Linked DNA regions of Homo sapiens: region 2 is linked to region 1. Evidence: fine-mapped expression QTL. A gene starts in region 1. The other region holds a variant in brackets. All regions are shown on one strand. Distances are from middle to middle.

Region 1 (2,897 bases):
CTACGGTAGGTTGGATGAGGGCGTGAAGAAGCATGTGTGAGCGTGTGTGTGCTGGAGGGTGTGAGGGTGTGAGGCTGTGTCTGAGTGATTGCACGTGAGAGCATGTGTCTGCATGTGTGACTGTGTGTGTGTGTGTGTGTGTGTGTGTGTGTGTGTGTGTGCGTGTGTGTGTTGGGGGCAGGAAAGGGAGCTGGTGTGGAGGGGCTCAAACTGGTGCAGGCAGAGTGGACAAAAAGAGAAAAGAGTTGTCTTTGAGTTGGGCCTGGAGAGCAGGAGAAGAAAAAAGGAGCTCTTATTGGTGGTTGTCAAGGAGATGGGCCTTGGGGTTTGCTGAACTTTCGTCCCTTAAAGCGTCCTGCCTGGAACTGAGAGGGGCCATTTATTTCCAGCCGCCCGTCCCTCCCAGGCCCGGTGGGACCAGACCCGAAGCCAACCCTCGCCAGGCGTCAGGTGTAGACCCCAGGCCAGGCCAGAGCAGTTCCTGGGTCTTCGGACCGGGATGCCCGCCCTGCCCCTCCTCCTGGCCCCGCCCGGTCTGTCACAGGGGGAGGCCTCGGCCTCGCATTCCGGGCAGCGAACTTCGCCGGCCGAGGTTAGCCCCGTGCGGGGGCCTCCCGCGGGACCGACCGCCAAGCGGCATTGTCCGTCCCGGGCGCCCGCCCGGTTCCAGACGCAGGTCCTGCGGCCGCCCCGTGACAAGCACACTGACGGGCCACTGTCCTTTGACGAGTGCTAAAAAGTTCGTTTGTTTTGAACGTCAATTTTCAAGTGATCTTCACGAGGTTTCCCCTCCCGGTTCCTTCGCTGCTGCCTCGCCCGCACTCGGTCCCCAGTAGGTGCTCAAGAAACGTCCAGCAAACGGCAGCGCAGGCGAGTCTGCTCTGCGCGCTGGCGCGTTTCACTGCCCACGGATGGCGGGCGACCTCACGGGATCCCCGGTTCGCAGGATCCCCGCCCCCGAGGCTGCCTCTGGGCCGGGAGGGGTTACCCCAGAGGGGCGTCCACTCTCGACGGCGGGGGCCGGGGCGCCGCGGGCAGGGGAGGGCGCAGCCTCCAAGCAGCCCCAGCCTGGCCTAGACCCCGCGCCTAGCGAGCCGGCCGGCCAGGCCCACACCCCCCACCTGCCGCCCGCCCCAGGGGAAGGGTCCCCCCGACGACGCCCGAGCCCCCCTCTTCCTCGGAGGGCCGGAGGCCGGCGCCCATTGGCCGGCCCTGGGCGACGCCCCGCCCCTCCGACGCCACGGGCCAATGAGCGCGCGCTGTCAGCTCATCAGCCGGGCTGGCTGGGCGGCTCGGGAGCCCGAGCGGTGGCGGAGCGGCGAGCAGCGAGCAGCGCCTGCGGGAGCGGCCGGTCGGTCGGGTCCCCGCGCCCCGCACGCCCGCACGCCCAGCGGGGCCCGCATTGAGCATGGGCGCGGCGGCCGTGCGCTGGCACTTGTGCGTGCTGCTGGCCCTGGGCACACGCGGGCGGCTGGCCGGGGGCAGCGGGCTCCCAGGTAAGCCCCCGACCGAGGTGGGGGGCGGCGGGCGCGGGGGGCTCGGGCGGCCGAGGCGCGGTCCCGGAGGGCTTCTTCCCCGCGGATCCCGAGCTCGCCCCGCGCGGCCCCGCGCCCCCTGCCTCTTTGCAAAGTAACTTCTAGGGCCGGCCCGGGGCGCCCCCTCCCCGCAGCCCGGGCGGCCGGGGCTCCTGAGTCCGGCGGGGCCGCACCAGGGGTGGGTGGGCCGGGGCCCCGGGAGGGGAAGCGCGAGCGCGGGAGCGAGGAAGAAAGGCGGCGGTTCCCGGGGACCCCGCGTGCGGACCTGGGCGGGGCGGGACCCCGAGCGCAGAGGGGCGCTCCTCCTGGGAGAGGGGGCGCGGGGCGGGGCGGGCGGAGGGGGACACGCCAGGAGGTGGACGGGGAAAGGGACGGACCGAGAGACCGGGACGGGGCGGGAGGTGCGGGACAGACGGACAGAAGAGCCGGCGCCGAGGGAGCAGACAAAAGGAAGCCCGGAGAAAAGACAGATGCGGAAGGGTAGAGAGGAGGCCCGCACCGCCCGGGGAAGGAGGAGGAGGCCGGTGGATCAGGGGGAATCAAGAGGGATGGTCCCACCGATGATAAGGGAGAGAGAGAGGAGGAGACGGGGGACAGATGGACGCCGCAGAAAAACGGGGTTGGGGGGGGCGGTGAGAGGGAGACCGGGAAAGAGAGAGGGACAGAGATACCTGGAAAGCCGCAGACGAGGGACCGGGACCGTCTGACAGGACGGGGAGGAAAGACAGAGGGAAGGAAGGCAGAGGATCCGGAGGACAGACACAGGGAGGAGAGTCCGGACGCGGGACGTCGGTGGAGCAGACCCAGGAAGGGGAGGGGGAGACCCGGAGGCCACAGGCCCAGGCCCGTGGGTTTCACGGGGACCCCCCCACCCTCCCACCCGGTCCCCTCCTGCTCTCTGTCTTCAGGGGCTTCCCGAAAAGCTGGAGTCACATTCTCCCCTCCTCGTCATCAGAGGCGCTTCCTCCGGTGCTCTGCTTGGAGGGGGAGGCAGGGGGAGGGTCCTGCACGTCCTTCCCGGCTTCCTGAGGTCTGGTATGGGTGGCGTAGGGTCTATTCCTGGTGGTCCCGCGTGCCCCGAGTGAGGATGCTGGGCCTGTGAGACTCTTCCACAGCAACACCCCTCCTGGAAGCCCAGCCCTGCTGCCCCATCATCCCCCTTGTGTCTGTGGGTGTCTCTCCCAAGCTTTGGGGTCCCTCACCTCTGAGTGACTGTTCCTGGGCGTGCCTATCCCCACCTGTGTCCCTCCTCGTGTCTCTCTGTATCTGACTCTGTCTCCTCCACGACCCTCTCCGTGGAAGCCCTGTGACTGTGAAACCCCAGCAGCATGTCCCCAGCATAAGCAAACCAGAGTCAAAGGG
Region 2 (2,897 bases), 44 kb after region 1:
ATATGGAGAAATTAGAAACCCCATACTTTGCTGGTTGGAAATGTAAAACGGTGTCGCCCGTGGTAAACAGTCATTTCCTCAAAAAGGGCACACATGGAGTTACCAGATGATGTGACAGTGCCACCCCCAGGTATCCACCCAGGAGAGCTGAAGGCGTATACCCCCACGAAAACTTACACACAGTGTTCAGCAGCACCGTTCATAACAGCCACAAAGCCAGCACAACCCGGATGTCCATCAGCTCACGAAGAGATACATGAAATGTGGTCTGTCCATGCAATAGAATACTGTTCAGCCGTAAAAGGGAATGAAGTGCTGAGTCACGCTACGACATGGATGCAGCTTGAAAACATGCTAAGTGAAGGAAGCCAGACACACAAAGACAAATATCGCATGACTCTCTTTACATGAAATGTCCAGAATGGGCAAACCATAGATGGAAAGTAGACATGTGGTTTCCAGGGGCGAAGGGGTAGGAATTGGGACTAACCGAAAACGGGCACAGGTCCTCTTTCTGGCATGATGGAAATATTCTGGAATTAGTAGTGATGGTCGTGCAACACGGTGAATATACTAAAAACCACTAAGATGTCGGCTTAAAGATTGTGAATTGTGTGCTCCATGAGTTCTATCTCAACCAGAAACGGGATTGGAGAAATAGCAGAGGTCACACGAACATAGCATCAAAAGTCCCACCCACATCCTCCAAGCAGACCATGTGCACAGCTCTGTCCACTTCTGGGCCAATTGTGAGTGCCCCAGTAAGCTGGGATCCCCAGAGAAGGGCGACCTGGGTGGTGAGTGTGCCAGAAGCTTATTCAGGAGGGAACAGTGTCAGGAGCCGAGCGGCTTCACTTGGAGACCAGAAGGCTGAGGCGGGTCTGAGTGCTCCCCTCTGATGTGGTTTGTTGTTGCTTTTGCATTTTGGAAGGGACTTTGCTGTCACTGGAGTACGTTCGTACCCGTGATTCCCTGAGGCCATGAGCAGCGGCTTCGTGCTGCACCTGCTCACACTCGGTGGTGGTCTGTGTGTGCCAGGCGCTGTGCAGAGTACATTACCTCCATCACCTCCTTTGACTCCCAAACACCTCAGGGACTTTTATCCCTGTTTTATAGAGAAGGAAACCAAGGCCCAAAATGGTGAAATGACCTGCTCAAGGTCACAGAGCAAGTGACCAGCAAAGACTCACTGAATCTTTTTTCTTTTTTTTTTTTTT[G/TG]AGACGGAGTCTCGCTGTGTCGCCCCAGGCCAGAGTGCAGTGGTGCGGTCTGGCTCACTGCAAGCTCCGCCTCCCGGGTTCACACCATGCTCCTGCCTCAGCCTCCCAAGCAGCTGGGACTACAGGCACCCGCCACCATGCCCGGCTAATTTTTTGTATTTTTAGTAGAGACAGGGTTTCACCGTGTTAGCCAGGATGGTCTTGATCTCCTGACCTTGTGATCCGCCCGCCTCAGCCTCCCAAAGTGCTGGGATTACAGGCGTGAGCCACCAAGCCCAGTCGACTCACTGAATCTTGTACTCCATCTGGTATGACTTGTAGAGCAACAGCCAGGTCCCATGGGCAGTGGTCACAGGGCAGCATCACGCAGACCCCTTTGAGGACTGGCCAGCGGTCTGCACTGGGCGGTAGACTCCCGTCCTTCCCTAGAGATGCACAGCAGGGGGCGGCAGGGCAGCGGCTGGGCTGGAAGGCAGGACTCAGGTTGCGGAGAGCAGAGTGAGCAGACCCCAGCGGCCAGCAGGCTTCACCACCTCTGCCTTCCCTGGGCTGGCTTGCTGGGTTTGGACGTGAGCAGTGAGCTTGCTGGTCTGGAAAGCTGACCTTACCATTCATGCGCCTCATCTCCCACCCTGAGCTTGGACTCAGGCCCAGGCCAAGAGGTTGGCTCTGTGTCTTCTGCACACGGCCAACCTGCTGGGGAATCAGGAGCCCCAGGGAAGACCTCAGCTGATGCCCAGACCAGGAAGCAGACAGGTCCTGGGAGACCCCAGGCATACCTCCTGCCGCCTGTGCCAGCAGCTCTTGACAGCTCGGAGAGTGTTCTGGATCTGGCAGAACCCAGGCCCCAAAGCTCTAAGACCCGTGTGTATTTTACCCAAAATCTAATCCATCTGGTTCTCATTTATTTACACTTAACTCATCAAATGCAATTTTGCAAGAGCCGCTAGATAGCCAAGAGGCTTTTCTGCCTAAGCCGCCCTTCTGAAAGGAGCCGGCAGGCGGTGGGGGCCTCAGCCCCCTGGGACCAGGTGGGAGCTCTCCGTGCTGGAGGTGGAGTTCGCTTCCTAAGATGGGCTGGGCACCTCTGCCTCTGTTTCTAGACCTTCCGTGGGAGCTGGGACACCGGAGCCAGTGGAGGGCCTGACACACAGTAGGCTCTTGACAGCCATGAAAACATGGGTGGGTCCAAGCAGAACACGGAGTCTCTGTTTCAAATCGGGAAATATTTGCGGGAAACACAAAGCAGCCAGAGCTGGATCCAGAAGTAATTTTTAGTTGTTATAAATAACTGTGAACCTGGACTCTTGGTCCAAAGTAGAACAAACAGCCAGCTATTAATAAAAACAAACATCAGCATCTTGGGCCAAGAAGCACACCTCCCGGGGAAACTGGTCCTGCCTGCAGAGGCCTTTCGGAAGCGGGTCAACCTATGGCCTGCTGATGTCAGCTCTGGAAATTCTTCTTGCTGGAAAACAACCATGTCAATCACAGCACAGGGGTCCCCTCCCACACATCACCCTTCAGTGGCTGGCAGCAGGTGGAGGTGGCCTGCGCCTGTGAGGACCGAGTGGAGATGGGCAAGAGTCACAGCTGAGGGCCGTCCGCCGCCACCCCGGCCTCCAGAGCTGTGCTCATGCTGGGTACTGCACAGTGAGGAGGTGGGACCTGACCCCAGAG

Which allele goes with the higher level. Alleles are on the strand shown, and positions count from the first base shown. SD is a standard deviation of normalised expression in the study named.
For the expression in prefrontal cortex of the gene that starts at base 1,298 in region 1, allele G in region 2 goes with a higher level than allele TG (large effect, 1.0 SD a copy in ROSMAP).

Evidence for each region. PIP is the estimated chance that this variant, and not a neighbour inherited with it, causes the effect. A credible set is the group of variants that fine-mapping cannot tell apart.
Region 2: its variant is the best candidate, but not a certain one, in a credible set for the expression of SCUBE1 in prefrontal cortex (ROSMAP, PIP 0.61).

The regions. Positions count from the first base shown.
Region 1 is chr22:43,341,773-43,344,669 of GRCh38, reverse strand. It overlaps SCUBE1 (signal peptide, CUB domain and EGF like domain containing 1), which reads left to right and starts at 1,298. Exons shown (of 22, transcript NM_173050.5): 1 at 1,298-1,496. The coding sequence starts at 1,409.
Region 2 is chr22:43,297,372-43,300,268 of GRCh38, reverse strand. The region is part of intron 3 of SCUBE1 (signal peptide, CUB domain and EGF like domain containing 1); the gene reads left to right. Among named protein-coding and RNA genes, the nearest start is that of SCUBE1-AS1, 23 kb to the right of the region's middle. The variant G/TG (reference allele first, on the strand shown) is at 1,218.